Regions from separate parts of the Homo sapiens genome. Here region 2 is linked to region 1. A link means that fine-mapping ties the variant in region 1 to the expression of a gene that starts in the linked region. Tissue or cell type: whole blood. Region 1 holds a variant in brackets; the other region holds the start of a gene. All regions are shown on one strand. Distances are between the middles of the regions.

The links. PIP is the estimated chance that this variant, and not a neighbour inherited with it, causes the effect.
Region 2: it holds the start of SIGLEC10-AS1, and the variant in region 1 is fine-mapped to the expression of SIGLEC10-AS1 in whole blood (TOPMed, PIP above 0.99).

Annotation. Positions count from the first base shown.
Region 1 is chr19:51,382,363-51,390,441 of GRCh38, forward strand. LIM2 (lens intrinsic membrane protein 2) reads right to left here and starts at 5,612. Exons shown (of 5, transcript NM_001161748.2): 1 at 5,557-5,612; 2 at 4,907-5,087; 3 at 56-205. The coding sequence starts at 5,081. C19orf84 (chromosome 19 open reading frame 84) reads right to left here. Exons shown (of 2, transcript NM_001193623.2): 2 at 5,927-7,147. The coding sequence ends at 6,622. It overlaps LIM2-AS1 (LIM2 and SIGLEC10 antisense RNA 1), which reads left to right and starts at 4,746. Exons shown (of 2, transcript XR_002958397.2): 1 at 4,746-4,835; 2 at 4,926-5,009. The variant A/G (reference allele first, on the strand shown) is at 4,675.
Region 2 is chr19:51,411,627-51,419,705 of GRCh38, forward strand. SIGLEC10-AS1 (SIGLEC10 antisense RNA 1) reads left to right here and starts at 4,098. Exons shown (of 3, transcript NR_164125.1): 1 at 4,098-4,506; 2 at 4,803-5,104; 3 at 5,506-6,571. SIGLEC10 (sialic acid binding Ig like lectin 10) reads right to left here and starts at 6,016. Exons shown (of 11, transcript NM_033130.5): 1 at 5,919-6,016; 2 at 5,456-5,839; 3 at 5,040-5,324; 4 at 4,684-4,731; 5 at 4,272-4,541; 6 at 3,942-3,989; 7 at 3,555-3,812; 8 at 3,198-3,482; 9 at 2,796-2,889; 10 at 2,086-2,197. The coding sequence starts at 5,955. RefSeq lists enhancers at 5,946-6,115, 6,176-6,245.

The sequences.
Region 1 (8,079 bases):
TTGGGGTTTGAGATGAGAGCGAGGAGAGGGGTAGGGAGAGGGTGGGCTTACTCACTTGAGGAAAAAAACATGATGCCAGCAGAGAAGGGCCGGGAGATGCGGGAGAAGGTAGGCTGATGAGCGAAGGCCATGATGCCCATGATGATGCCGGAGATGGCGCATAGGGCAGACAGGATCATGAAGGCCCGGGTGGCATTCCAGTATGCTGTGGGAGCACCCCATGGTCATTCCCACACCTCCCCTGCTCTAAGTGAGAGATGCTGCTACCTCTGAGATGAAAATGCCTTGCCCCTTTCCATATCCCTAACCCAGCTCATCCTTCCCTTCTTTGCAAATGCCCTCTTCTTCACCTGGCAAACTCCTACTCATCCTCCAAAGCACAGCTCCCGTGACCCATCCTCTAGGAAGCATCTCCCCACCCCTCAGTCATCATCTTCACCCACGGCTAAGGGTTGTGACTCTCTTTGTCTGTCTCCCCCTCCAGCCTGATTGCTCCTTGAAGACAGGCGGTGGGTTGGTTCTGTGTCATAAACACCCCCACCACACATTTGGTTTGCATTCTGGCCTTGGGAAATGTTTGTTGAATGAATGAATGAATGAATGCTGATTCCTTATATTTTCCTACTAATTACTATTCTCTCTCACATTTCTTTTTTTTTCTTTTCTTTTTTTTTTTTTTTTTTTTTTTTTGAGACCGAGTCTTCCTCTGCCACCCAGGCTGAAGTGCTGTGGCACAATCTCAGCTCACTGCAGCCTCCACCTCTGAGGTTCAAACGATTCTCCTTCCTCAGGGTCCCGAGTAGCTGGGACTACAGGTGCGCACCACCATGCCCGGATAATTTTTGTATTTTTAGTAGAGACGGCATTTTGCCATGTTGGCCAGGCTGGTCTCAAACTCCTGGCCCCAAGTGATCCACCTGCCTTGGCCTCCCAAAGTGCTGAGATTACAGGTGTGAGCCACTGCGCCCAGCCTACTCTTTCATTTATTTTATACTACTTGCTTATATCTGAAAATGTCCTATTTACTTGTTTTTAACTTATTTATAATGTCTGTCTCTCCTCAGTAAATCCTTAGCTCTCAAGGACAAGCACCTTGCTTTCTCATTCACCACTGTGTCCCCAGCACCTACACCTGGTGCATAATAGGTGCCCAATAAATGCGTGAAATGAATTAATGTTGAGCACCGGGGCCATTCTTCTCTTGTGCTTTGCCCAGGGATGGCCCCTCAGGAAAGATAATAATAATCTCTTCATCCTTTAGCAACGGCTAACTATATGCCAGGCTCGCTACCCAGGTGTGATGTTGTTTATTCCTCCAGAGCCCTACTCTATAAGTACCATTTTTATGCTTCTTTTTCAAGTGAAGAAATGGAGGCCCAGAGAGGTAAAGTGACTTGCCCGAAGTCTCATAATTAGAAACAGGGCTGGAGTCAGAATCCAAGCTCCAAGGCCCACGCTCCTAACTGCTTGGCTATTCTGTCTGCTGGAGCACCTGGGAAATGGTGCACCTCAAACCTTGCATCTTGCCATTGAAAAGTAAAAAGTCTAGGATCTTTGTAAAACCCAGTCTTCTGCCTTGTAGAAGCCTCGGTGAGAGAAATTCCTGGCTGTTTCTCCATGGATTTTATGGGTTATGCCTTTCTGTCCCCCGCCTCAAATGTTTATGTTGAAATTGTAACTAGTGCCTTAGAATGGTAACTTATTTGGCAATAGAGTCTTTGCAAATATAATTAGTTAAGACGAGATCATGCTAGAGTAGGGTGGGGCTCTAATCCAAAGACTGGGCTGGGTGTGGTGGCTCCTGCCCAGTGTAATCCCAGCACTTTGGGAAGCCAAGGCAGGTGGATCACCTGAGGTCAGGAGTTTGAGACCAGCCTAGCCAAAATGGAGAAACCCTGTCTCTACTAAAAATACAAAAATTAGCCAGGCTTGGTGGTGGGCACCTGTAATCCCAGCTACTCAGGAGGCTGAGGCAGGAGAATCACTTGAACCCGGGAGGTGGAGGTTGCAGTGAGCCAAGATCATTCCACTGCCCTCCAGCCTGGGTGGCAGAGCGAGACTCCAACTCAAAAACAAAACAAAACATAAAACAAAGACTGCCGTCCTTATAAAAAGAGGAATCTGGACACAGACATGCTTTTAGGAAAAATGCCATGTGTGAGGAAGGTAGAAATTGGGGTGATGCATCTCCAAACCAAGAAACACCAAAGATTCCCAGAAAATCACCAGAAGCCAGGGAGGGAGGGACATGGAACAGATTCTCCCTCACAGCCCTCAGAAGGAACTGATTTTGCCCACATCTTCATCTCGGCCTCCAGAACTGTGAGACAACACGTTTCTGTTGTTCAAGCCACCCAGTCTGTGGGGCTTTTTTATGGCATCCCTAGCACACTAATTCAGGCTGGTCACAGCGGCTCAGGCCTGGAATCCCAGCACTTTGGGAGGCCGAGGCAGGAGGATTGCTTGAGGCCAGGAGGGTTTCTTTTTGATTATTTATTTTATCTTATTATTATTTTTTGAGACAGGGTCTTGCTCTGTCACCCAGGCTGGAGTGCAGTGGCTCTATCTTAGCTCACTGCAGCCTTAAACTTCTGGGCTCAAGTGATCCTCCCACTTCAGCCTTCTGAGCAGCTGGGGCCACGGGAGCACACCACCACGCCCAGCTAATTTTTTATTTTTTGTTGAGATGGGGTCTCCTTACGTTGCACAGGCTGGTCTCAAACACCTAGGCTCAAGTGATCCTCCTACCTCAGCCTCCCGAAGTGCTGGGATTCCAGGCTGAGCCACCACGTCCATCTGAAGCCGGGAGTTTGAAACAAGCCTGGGCAATACAGTGAGATGCTGTCTCTACAAAAATCAAATCAAATGAAATAATGAGGCCAAGTTCGGTGGCTCATGCCTATAATCCCAGCACTTTGGGAGGCCGAGGCGGGTGGATCACCTGAGGTCAGGAGTTCGAGACCAGCCTGGCCAACATGGTCAAATCCTGTCTCTACTAAAATACAAAAATTAGCCAGGCATGGTTTTGGGCGCCTGTAATCCCAGCTACTCGGGAGGCTGAGGCAAGGAGAATTGCTTGAACCCAGGAGGCAGAGGTTACAGTGAGCCGAGATAGTGCCATTGCACTCTGGCAGGGGTGACAGAGCGAGACTCTGTCTGAAACAAAACAAAACAAAACAAAAACAAACAAACGAAAAAACGAAAGACCTTCACCAAGGCTCCCTGTCTCCTGCATCCCTGGCAGAGATAAGACAGAGAGGTGGCTCAGGGCTGTCCCTCGGGGAATTCCCAGCCCGAAGCAGGAGAAATGTAGAAGTGTCACAAATGAGACAGCCAGAAAGGAGAAGGATGTGTGGAGTCAGGCAGAGCGGACTCTGAAGCTGATGGCCCAAGGCAAGTCTTTTCACTTCTCCCTGCCTCAGTCTACCTCTCCAGCAAACAGGCATCGTCCTGCCTCTCTCTCAGGGCTGGCTCCGGGAGAGATGAGTGGGCGAAGTCTCCCATGCCTGTCACGTCCGGCACTCAGTGACGCTTAGCTCTTCTTCTCAGCTACTCAAGAGGATGTTTGAATTTTGAGATCAAATCTCATGTCTCACTCTTACATACAATTGAACTGCCCGTAGTGTTGTTGGGGATGGAAGTGAGTTTATCCATGTAAAGTGCTTAGAATAGCACATAGGGCATAGTAAGCACTCAATCAATGCCAGTTATTATTATTACTGTTACTAGTAGTAATACACAATATATTATATATTATTAATTAATTTTTATTTATTTTTTAGACAGAGTCTTCGTCTGTTGTCCAGGCTGGAGTGCAGTGGTGCCATCTGGGCCCACTGCAGTCTCCGCCTCCCAGGTTCAAGCGATTTTCCTGCCTCAGCCTCCTGAGTAGCTGGGATTACAGGTGCTCACCACCATGCCTGGCTAATTTTTGTATTTTTAGTAGAGACCGGGTTTCACCTTTTTTGCCAGGCTAATCTTGAACTCCTGACCTCAGGTGATCCGCCCACCTCAGCCTCCCGAAGTGCTGGGATTACAGACGTGAGCCACCACGCCTGGCCAAATTTATTAATATGTTATATAATAAGTGTGCAATATAATATACTCTACATTATTAATTTATTATATAATATATTGTATAATATATACATTATTAATTTATTATATAATGTCATGACATATACTATTTATTAGATAATGAATGTGTAATATAATGGATTCTACATCATATATAATATATTACATGTGCATTACTTATATAATATGTAGCATATTATATACAATATATTATGTATTAGTAATTTATTATATAATAGAGGTGCATGTATAATACACTATACTGTATATTATTGTCTATATGTAGTTATATATAATACATCATAAATTATATGTAATAATATAAATTGCATATATTACACATAATATAGTATACATTAACTTAATATATTATAGATGCTATGCAGCAAGCAATATACTATATATCTCTATGTATCTCTCTATCTATGGCCTGGCACATTATAAGTAGGCAAAAATACTTTATGCTACTTTATGCAGTATTTAGCAAATTCAGTATCCACCAGTACCTAACATAGTTCTTGGTCCATAGTACATATTTAGAAAATGCTGTTTCGTGACACTAGCCCCAATTGCTGTGCATGACACCTCTGAAGCGTC[A/G]GGAAATGCCACCTCTCCCAACTTAACCTTCAAACCAGCACCCCGTGAAACTGCAGCTAGAAAACAACCCTGTAGTCCCAGTTCTGCCCCCTCCATGCTGAGTGACCTTGGGTTGCTCCCTTTCCCTCTTTGAGCCGCAGAGTTCTCCATCTGGAATACAGGTGTCCTTGGGCCCCGAGGTCCGCCCTGCTCTTTCCCCAGGCGCGGCCTGGACCCTGGCCGGGGGGCTCACCGATGCTGTCTGTCTGCAGGTAGCACTTGTTGCCCAGGCAGTACCGCCACAGGCCCTGGTGGGCGAAGGACCCTGACAGCCGGTACTGCATCCAGTGGTCTGTTGCCATGGCCACCACCAGGAGGATGGTCCCCACCCAGGCACAGAACAGGCCACCACCCATGAAGCTGTACATGGTGATCTGTGGGGAAGGGGAGAGATGGGATTGGGAGCTGAATTCCCGGGACTTGAAGGGAGGAACTGGGGGGAGAGAGGGCTCAGGAGTGGGATGCCAAGTGCTTGGGAGAAGGAGATGGAGACCTAGACGCCTGGGTCCTGGGCGAGGAGGGGACTGGAGCCCGGACTCCTGGGTCTGAGGGAGGAGGATGGTAGGGATCCTGGAAAGACAACAGGGAGAGCGGGGCTGGGTTCTGGGAAGAAAAGGCCGGGGGCCTGGACTTCCAGGTTCTGAGCAAGGAATAGGCTGGAGGCCTAGCTTCCTGAGTCCTAGGTGAGAAGGGGCCCAGGAGCCTGGATTCCTGGGTGGTGGGTAAGGAAGGGGCTAGGGGCTAGGGGGTAGGACACCAGGTCCTGGGAGAAGAAGGAGCTGGGACCCTAGACTCCTGGGACTTGGGGAAGAGGGGGCTACAGGTCTCACGCCTGGTGCCTACCTGAGTGGCAGAGCCTGCCCGAGCCCTCCTTCTGCCACGGCCCCTCTGTGCAGACTGAGCTGAGCCTGGTCACTGGCCTCTTTGCCCCCTTAGGTTCCCCAAATCCCTTAAGCCTCCCTACACAATGGTCCCACTACCCAGCAGCTTCCAGCAGGCAGAAATGCAGCGGTGGCAGAGGCCTCAAATGGAATTCGCTGAAGCAGGCATCCAGGGGGCTCCCCCCACCCACTCACTGACCTCTGTGACCCTCCCCGGAACCCAATACCTTGTCGCCAGCCTTGCTCAAAGCAACCCTGGCTTTGTCCGAGCTGTGTAAGCACGCACACACGCACACACACACACACACACGGGCGCGCGCACACACGCAAGATTCAGGGAGAGTCATGCGTTTATTGTTCAACCAGGGCTTTCTACCTGAAGAGCAGGCAGTGGGGTGGGGAGTCACAGGTGTCTGGGTATGTGGGGCCAATGCGGTTCTTTGTGGGGATGGACACAGGGCTGTGGCTGAGGTTGAGGATGGAGCTCTTTGGGGCTGTAGATTCAGAGGACATTAAAGATGGGCTGAGGTACACAGGCAATGAGGAGAAAGGGGTTGGTAAAGAGGGTGGGTTAGGGTTGAGGCGCAGAAGTGGAGCTGGGACTGGTGACAGGGATGGGAATGAATGGGTTTGGGAACAGGGTATTGAGAGTGGGGAAGAGAGAGGCAGGTAGGAGTGGCTTTGGGATTAGGGAGAGGATAGGGAATGGGGTTGGAGGAGCCCTGGGGGTTGAGAATGAGGTAAGGATTGTGGTTGTGGTTGGGGATGGCATTGGGAATGGGGTTGAGGCCATCAAGGAGACAGGTTTGGGTACGAGGTTTAGGATTTTCTTCTCACTTGGGATTCAGGTGACTTAGGTCAGGTTCACCAAGTGCCTCACAGGAGCTACTCCTGGGATTGTGGTTTTGGGGAGAGGGGAGGATGGAAGATGTTTCTTGGGGTTCTTCTGACAGGGCTGAGATCACTCTGGGCCCCAGGAAAACCCTCCTGGGTGACTGCAATCTCAGGTGCCTGACCCTCCAAGGTCCTAGTACTCTGTCTCCCAGTCCTCAGCAGCCAGTGGTGTTTCCAGGGGTGGCTCTGGACCTCGAGCTTCTTTCTTCCCATCCTGGGCAGGCAGTGTTGGTGGTGATGGCAGTGTCATTGGTGGGGTCCTGGGGCCAGCCCCAGGGCCCCCCGCCCGGCCCCTCTCTGGCTGCTCAGCTCTCCCAAGGCCCCGTCGATGCAGGCCTCGGCCCCAGCCTGGCCTGTGCCTGACTTCCCAGCCTCCGCGTCCCCTGGGAGGCCTCCTAACTGCCCCCGGCTGGGAGTGGCCTGCCTGGGAGCAGCAGGGGCAAGAGGGCAAGGCCTGTTGGAAGGTGTAGGCCCCCAGCAGGGCGCTGTGCAGGAGGCAGGAGAGGGTGTCCAGGCGTATGGGCACGGTGACAGAGGCCACGCTCTCCGGGAGCCCCAGGTGGGTGGGGTCTGTGGAGTTCAGGAGCAAGGGTGGAGGGGCTGGGAGAGGCGCAGGGGGCCATGGCTCGGTCCCAGATGACGGCAGGGACAGGTTGTTCCTAGAACAACAAAAAGACAGGTCAGTGGGGCTCAGCGTCTCCGTACTTTCTTGTTTCTCGCTGCCAGGCTGTCTCTGCACCTCTGCAGAAGGCAGCCATCTCTCCATCCTCAGTGCCCACCTGTGACTTCCTCCCCCGCTTCTCTCTTTTTGTTTCTAACCCGGGTCTCTCTAAAGAAACAGACAGCTCTGCCATGAACTTCGGCACCAGACAGAACTCAGTTCCAATTCCTGGTGGCCTCGCTTTTGGTGGTGTATCTTTGGACAAATCATTTTCCTATTCCGAACCTTAATTTGTTTATAGTCACAGATGGCTTTGGATGGTATCAAAGGTGCGTATGACAGCGCTGGGTCTGGTAAGTGCTAAAACAGTGGACAGCTACGATTTCTCCAGCCTTCTGGGGATCCCTGGAGTCTTCACATTTCTTGGTTTATTCTTGGAAATTTCTGTTCGATGAGTATCTGTTTCTAGCTCTTTTTTTTTTTTGAGATGGGGTTTCACTCTTGTTGCCCAGACTGGAGTGCAATGGCGCTAACTTGGCTCAACGCAACCTCTGCCTCTCGGGTTCAAGCGATTCTCCTGCCTCAGCCTGTCGAGTACCTGGGATTACAGGCACGCACCACCACGCCCGTCTAATTTTGTATTTTTAGGAGAGACAGATTTCTCCATGTTGGTCAGGCTGGTCTCGAACTCCCGACCTCATGTGATCCACCCGCCTCGGCCTCCCAAAGTGCTGGGATTACAGGCATAAGCCACTGCACCCGGCCTCCGCCTGTTTCTAAGTATCTCGCTCAACTCTCACCAAGATCTTCTAAGATTCTGTACCTATGTGATGATACCTGAGCCTTTTTTGTTTTTCCTGATTCTCTATGCAGGTCTGTTCAGCGCGCCCTTTCTCTCTCGTTTTCTCTGTCCCCTCCTCTCTCTGGGTC
Region 2 (8,079 bases), 29 kb after region 1:
GTCATCCAGGGAATTTCAAGACCGGCCTGGCCAACATAGCGAAACCCTGTCTCTACCACAAATACAAAAATTAGCCGGGCGTGGTGACACATGCCTGTGGTCCCAGCTACTCAGGAGGCTGAGGCAGGAAAATCACTTGAACCTGAGAGGTGGAGGTTGTAGTGCGCTGAGACTGCGCCACTGCACTCCAGCCCGGACAACAGAGACAAAATCTGTTTCAAAAAAATAATTGATAGCCGGGTACGGTGGTTCACACCTGTAATCCCAGCACTTTGGGAGGCTGAGGCGGGTGGATCACCTGAGGTCAGGAGTTTGAGACCAGCCTGATCAACATGGTGAAACCCCGTCTCTACTAAAAATACAAAAATTAGGGGGGCATGGTGGTGGATGCCTGTAATCCCAGCTACTCAGGAGGCTGAGGCAGATGAATCGCTTGAACCAGGAGGTGGAGGTTGCAGTGAGCCGAGACCTTGCCACTGCACTCCAGCCTAGACAACAACAGTGAAATCCCATCTCAAAAAATAAAATAAAATAAAAATAAATAAAATAAAGAATAGCATGCATGCACGGAGAGAAAGACTGGAGGGGGTGAGAACGGAAGCAGAGAAGGCATGCAGAAGGGGCCAGTGGTGCCCGGGGTGGGGTGGGGGGTGTTGATGCATGGCTTGTAGTAGTGAGGGAAGAGTAGGGAGAACTGGCTTGGTTGTATTTTGAAGGGAATTTGCTGATGGATTGGTTGTGGGGTGACAGAGAAGAGAGGAGTGAAATATGATTCTAAAGCTTTAGACTTGGCTGGGAAAATGTGGTGTTATTTGCTAAGATGGGGATAGAGATGGAGCATAAATGGTGGAATTAGTCTTTTTTTTTTTTTAGATGAAGTTTCGCTCTTGTTGCCCAGGCTGGAGTGCAGTGGCATGATCTCACTGCAACCTCCACCTCCTGGGTTCAAGTAATTCTCCTGCCTCAGCCTCCCGAGTAGCTGTGATTACAGGCACCCATCACCATGCCCAGGTAATTTTTTGTATGTTTAGTAGAGATGGGGTTTCACCATGTTGAACACGCTGCTCTTAAAATTTTGACCTCAGGCGATCCACCCACCTCGGCCTCCCAAAGTGCTGGGATTACAGGTGTGAGCCAGCAGGCGTGGCCTTTTTTTTTTTGAGACAGGGTCTCACTCTGTCACCCAGGCTGGAGTGCATGGTGTCATCATGGCTCACTGTAGCCTCCAACTCCCAGGCTCAAGAGATCCTCCCACCTCAGCCTCCCAAGTAGCTGGGACAATGGGCATGCACCACCACACCCGGCTAATTTTTTATTTTTTTTGTAGAGAAGAGGTCTCACTATGTTGCTCAGGCTGGGGAATTATCTTAAGTTGGTTTTGGACAGGCTAAGTTTGAAGTGCTGATTAGACACCCACATGGAGATGTTGCATAGACAGTCTTCAGGGAAGGAGCCACGAGATACAATTTTGCAGTCATCAGCATAAGATGTTATCTCTTAATAATTTCCAGAATTTACAGAGTATTACCCAGGGGCCAGGTGATATTCTGAATATTTTATTATGCAAGTACAATATATTTAACACCCAGCATCATCCTAGGAGGTGGCCGCTAGTATTGTCTCCATGTTACAGCTAAAGAAATTGAGGCACAGAGAAGTTAAGACACTTGTTTCATGACACAGTGATGACAGCAGGATTTGAACCCATGCAGGCTGATTTCAGACCCCCTGTGCTGAATCCCTAGGATGCCCAGCCTCCCGATGATACACATAATTGTTAAGCAGTTAAGTGTAGTCATGTCAATGGTGGCAGTAATAATGGAACAATGGCTACAGATTGAGAAAGTGCATGTATTCTAATCCTCAAACCAACTCTCAAAGGAGACAGAGGAAGAAATGAAGGCTCAGAGGGGGTGAGTGACGTGGCTGAGGTCTCATAGCTAGTAAGTGCCAGGCAGGATTTGAATTCAGAACTATCGGTGCTTTTCCCACCTTGATGTCGCTAAGACAAGGGGTGCAAAAGTCAGAAAGTGGGATGTCAGCTTTAGAGAAGAGAAAAAGTGGAAGCATGGCCCAGACACTCACCAGGGGGCCAGCCGTCGGGACCACATTGATGTAATCCAGGATCGTGCTGTGCCGGGAGAACCTGGGCCTCGGGGTTTCTGTCTGAGTCCGTCTCTTCGGTAGAATCTTCATGCTGAGGAAATGAACCCACCTGTTTGTGCCCTGCTGCACCTCCCTGTGACAGACTGCCACGTTTACTACCTGAGACCGTCACTATGACAGTTACTACTGTTACCACTTGAGACCGTCATTATGAGACTGAAAGAAGGAGGACAAACGTAGAAATGAAAACTTAAGACAAAAGAAATTATTTTAAAGGAAGGGGTCAGGGGAAGAAGAAGAGGGTTCCCTGCTACTAGTGAGCCAGGGCAGCTGTCTGAGCCTCTACAGCCCTTTGTATTTATTGGGTAGAAAGAGCAGAGAGCAGGAGGTAACAATTGGTCAGCTGTTTAATTGATCACAGGTTCATATTATTACTAACAAGCTTCAGCTGTGCCTAATTACAAGAAACACTTCGCTTGGGGCGTGACTGCCCTCAGCATTCCCTCTGGGAAGCAGACGCAGTTTGTCAGTTGGACAACATTCTGCATTTATGAGAACAGTTTGCTGTTTACTCATGTAACCTCCAGAGGTATACTGCGTTGATCACGACCTTCACTCTTTCGGCCTGCAACACCTCCCCTCTTCCTGGGTCCAGGCCCCAGACCCCGCCACGCCTCCTCTTAACCTACATGATCAGGGCCAGGCAGAGGAAAAGAAGAGCCGTGATGCCGATTCCCAGAAACGCTCCGTTGGAGAATGCCGTTGAGATGAGTCCCTTCTTATCTGCACACGGAGAGGGCAAGGTGAGCATTTCCCATCCACGCAGGGCTCACGAAGCCCGCTCATCACTCGGCATTAAGGCTTCCGGTTCCCATGGCGGACATTGTATCTGCAACCCCTCTGTTTACTTTTAGGAAACCCTGCCACACCCCGGCCCAGGTGTTAGGACTTCCCATTGTGTTTTCCTGTCTACATACAGATGCCACGGGTCTGCTGTGTCCCTCCAAGCTCCTGCTCCAACCACAGGACCCTACTCTTTGCCCCAGTCAGCTTCTCCTCCAAGAACCTTGGCATCCAGGCGGCCCCCTAACCTGGCAGCTGCAGGATGGATCCACTCTGGGCCCCATGGACGTTCCAGGCCTCACAGCGGAGCCTGAGGCCGGAGCTGAGCCCTCCATGGAGGCTCAGGGAGCTGTTGGCCCAGGGCCCGGCTGAGCTGGGGGTGACCTCGAAGGAGTCCTGGCTGCTGTTCCCCTCCAGCAGCTCCTCCCCAAGCCACCAGCGCAGAGAGGGGGCCGGGCTGGCCTGGGAGGAGCAGCTGCAGTGCAGACCCTCAGCCTCCCAGGAGCAGGAGGGGCCCAGCAGCTTCGGGGAGTCTGAGGGGAGGGAGGACAGGACTCAGCAGGGTCCCCTTCCTGGGACCCAGGTGTCCCCTTTCCCCCACTCACAGTGCACGGAGAGGCTGAGAGAGACGTGCTGGGAGCCCAGTGGGTGCCGAGCGTGGCAGGTGAACTCTCCTTCGTGCTCCACTTGAACCCGAGGCAGCTCCAGGACCCCGGGGTCTGAGGGCTGGGAGGGGCTCAGAACCTGTCCCCTCTGGGTCCAGCTCAGCCTGGCTGGGGGGCTGCTGTGTGTGACACAGACCAGGCACAGGCTTTGGCCCTCCAGTACTGGGAGAGACGTGCCGTTCCCAAGGTTTTCCAGGACTAGGGAAGGAAGAGGCAGAATCGATGAGCAGCTCAGGGCTCAGGGACCCTCCTGCGTGGGGACCCTCCAGACTCCTGGGCCCCCAATTCGGCACTGAGAGGCCTTGGCTCCTCTGTCCCCTTTCCTACCTGTCCTGTTTGCTTGGGAAACCATCACTCTCAGGTTCTCTGGAGGATCTGAAATGGAGACAGGGGACCGGCTCTAGACGGACCAGGGGCTTCCCTCTGGGTAAAGGGAACCATCCTGGACACTGAGGTGGGGGAAGTGGGTGGGATAGAAGGGCAGGGCAGAATCACCCACTGAGTCCCAGACACAAACTGCATGAGGGTCTACACAGGTAAGAAGGTCGGTCTCCGAGGCCTGGGGCTCCAGGCCCCCTCAGCTCTGGGACCCTGAGCCCAGCCCCTGTATCCCTCTGCCCTCCCAATGGACTCCAGGCCCCTGCTGGGCACACTCACACTGCACAGAGAGGTCCAGGGCTCGCTGCTGGGAGCCAAGCCTGTTCTCCGCTCGGCAGGTGTAGCGCCCTGAATCCCCAGCCTTCACCCCGGGCAGCTCCAGCCCCAGGGGTCTAGGGCCCCAGGGATGGGACGAGGAGAGGACTCTGTTCTGCAGGACCCAGCTCAGTGTGGCAGGGGGCTGGCTGTCAGCAGCACAGAGGAGCCGCAGGAACTGGCCTTTTTGGGCTTCCAGGTATGGGACATTTCCCTGGGGCTGGGGCTCCAGGGCTGGAGTGGGAGGAAAAAAAAAAAAGAGAGAAAGGGAGGGAGAAAGAGAGAAGGGGTACAGGGAGGAGCACATCCCCTCATCCCCTGAAGCCTTTTCATCTAAAGACAACTGGCCCAGCCCCAGCCCGACGGCCCTCAGTACCTGGCGTGTTGTCACGTGAAATGCTGATAACAAGGTCTCTGGGGGCATCTGCAACAAGATTGTGAGCTGGCTTCAGGGAGGGACAATTTATTCCTCACACCTGGAAAAAACTCCCTCAGGGAAAAGAAAGTGGGACTATCCCGGGAAGACAAGTGACAACCAGCGCCAGGGCTCACGTGTGTGGACCAGACGCCATTCCCATCCCCCTCCCAGGGCTGCGGCGGCATCCTGGGACCCCACAGCTTCCTCTCCCTGGATGCTCCTGAGCTGGGAGCCGCTCACTGTCCCACTGGGCTCCTCCACCTCCCCACCCACCGGGGCTGTCTGCACACCCCACCCTCCCAGGCCACACTCACAGGCCACACGGAGTCGGACGGTCCTCTGTGCGCTCACACCCTTTCTGGAGAAGTCCACATGGCAGGTGAGGTCGGTGTTGTGGTCCTGGGGTCTGGGCGTGAAGCTGAGCACTGAGAAGTGGGAGGTCGTTGGTTTGGTTCCTTGGGAGGAGAGGGCAGCCCCCGTCCAGGAGAAAGAAGGGGGTGGACATTCCTCAAAGGCCCAGTTAAACACACAGATGACCGTCACCGGCTGCCCGGGCTCCAGGGTCTCGGGGATGTAGACATCAGGCTTCTGAGTCAGGGCTGGGACAGAGACCGTGGTGGGAGATTCTTGTGCTGCAGGGGTCCCTGAGAGCCCTCTCTGCTCAGCCCATAGGCTGTCCCCAGGGTCCCTCCCCAGTGTGAGAGGCAGGGGTTCCCACCCCATTCCATACCTGTTACTTTTAGAAAGAACCCATCGTTCATGAAATTATATCTCACATAGCTTCCTCTCTCCACCCGAAAGAAGTACTGTGACTCATCCTGCATCTGCGCGTCTCTGATCACCAAGGAGCAGTTCCCCTTGGCGGGATCCCCAGTGAGCTGGAATCGGCCCCGGGTGCTCATTTCCACCTCTCGACTCTGGTGGTTTGTGGCCACAGGAGCACCCTTGGTTGTCTCAGTCACTGCTTTGAACCAGTAGCCATAAGCTGGGGTAGACCCTGTCCAGTCCTGTCGGGGGTAGGAGAAAGAGCAGGGCACAGAGATGCACAGGCCCTCCGGCACCATCACTGACTCCTGCACTCGTATCCAGAATCTCCCATCCATAGCCTGGGACCCTGTGGGGAGACAGAGGCTCAACCTGCAACCCCAGCCCTAGCTCCGCCCCAGGTCCTTTCCGGCCCTTGGCCCACTCACCGCCCAGCAGCGAGGACAGCAGCAGTGGCAGTAGCATCTCCGCATAGGAGGCGCAGGGCCTGCCTGAGACAGGCCTGTTCTCTGGTCGTGCTGTGAGTGGCTCAGGGCTCTTGGCAGAAGGGGAAGCCGAAGGCGGAAGCTGAGCCCTGGGGCCTGATGCATGAAATGAGCTTCAGACGCTGAGCTCACAGAACTCCTTTGCCTTCCCCCACACTCTCCGGCCCACCTTGCCCAGTTGTCCTCTGGGTCTCCTGGGGGCCCAGCCTGGCCTTGGGCTTGTTGAGCTGGTCCTTCCAGAGCTCCCTGTGTAGGAGGAGAGGGCAGGCTTGTGTCTATCCTGGGGGCCTGGCTGGGGGTGGGGTAGTGGGGTGGGGGCTCTCCCTCTGGGCCCTGGGTCATCGGAAAAGCAGAAGTGAGAAGTCCACAGTGAGCTACCCTTATCTGGGCCACTGGTGGTGGAGGTGGTGGGTACAGGGGAAGGGACCGTTACTGGAGGGGGCTGGTCTTGTCAGGTAAAATGCAGGATGCCTGGTTAAAGCTTTCACAGACAATATAAAGTATTTTATTTTATGTTTTTTGGTATAAGTATGTCCGAAATGCTGCATGGGATATACTTATACCAGAAAGCAAAATAAATTTATCTGAAATTCAAATTAATTAATTAATTAATTATATTTTGAGACAGAGTCTCACTCTGTCACCCAGGCTGCAGTGCAGTGGTGCAATCTCTGCTTACTGCAACCTCCACCTCCCAGGCTGAAGTGATTCTCCTGCCTCAGCCTCCTGAGTCTGGGCTTACAGGCACGCGCCACCACGCCAAGCTAATTTTTGTATTTTTAGTAGAGGTGGGGTTTCACCATGTTGGCAGGGCTGGTTTTGAACTCCTGACCTCAAATGATCCACCTGCCTTGACCTCCCAAAGTGCTGAGATTACAGGTGTGAACCACCGCACCTGGCCTAAAATTCAAATTTAACTGAGCATGTTGAATTTCTTTTTTTCTAAATCTGGCCACCGTAGGGTGGTGTCAGCTCCACCTCTTCATGCTTCCTGGTGAGCTCACTGACCCTTGGTCCCCAGAAGCAGTCTCCTGCCCCAACCAGGCCCTAGTCCACTTCCCAGTCTCCCTTCCTCCTCTGTCATTCAATTGGGACACCCATTGGGATTAGAACACATATGTCCAAAGCTAATGCTGATGGGAAGAGTTTGAGGAAGGCGGGAGTGAGGGGCAGAGTGGGGGGAACAGACTAGGGAAGGGGTAATTTGCAATGAATGGAGTAAACTCTACAAGATGTTTTCCCCTCACTGAGCTCTTCCTGAAATGACTCTGTTTGGGTCACACCGAAACACAGAACTCATCCTTCAACCTCCACATACCTTGGGTATCAAGCACTGAGCTTTAGGGGGACTTGGAGGTGAATCCTCCATGGTGAGTCAGCTCCAGGGCCCCAGGTTAGCAAATGAAGATTCTTAGAAACAAAGTACAGAAGGTCCCCTAAATGAACTGGATGCTGGACAGACATTCAGGATGGGACCTGGGGAAGGAGTGGTCAGCTCTTCCTGGTGGAGGGAAGTCAGGAGAGGCCTCCTGGAGGAGATGACCCAGCCTCTGCCCTGTCCTGGTTCTTTCATCCATGGCATTTTTGTTTTTTGTTTTTGAGACAAGGTCTTGCTCTGTTGCCCAGGCTGGAGTGCAGTGGTGTGATCATGGCTCAGTGCAGCCTCCATCTTCTGGGCTCAAGCGATCCTCCCACCTCAGCCTCCCAACTAGCCGGGACTATAGGCACACACCACCACGCCCAGATAATTTTTGATTTTTTTTTTTGATAATTTTTGTAGAGACAGAGGTGTTTGTTTGTTTGTTTGTTTTTGTTTTTTGAGATGGAGTTTCCCTCTTGTTGCCCAGGCTGGAGTGCAGTAGCATGATCTTGGCTCACTGCAACCTCCACCTCCGGGGTTCAAGCGATTCTCCTGCCTCAGCCTCCCAAGTAGCTGGGACTACAGACATGCGCCACCATGCCTGGCTGATTTTGTATTTTTAGAAAAGATGGGGTTTCTTCATGTTGTTCAGGCTGGTCTCGAACTCCTGACCTCAGGTGATCCACCCGCCTCAGCCTCCCAAAGAGCTGGGATTACAGGCGTGAGCCACTGCACCTTGCTGAG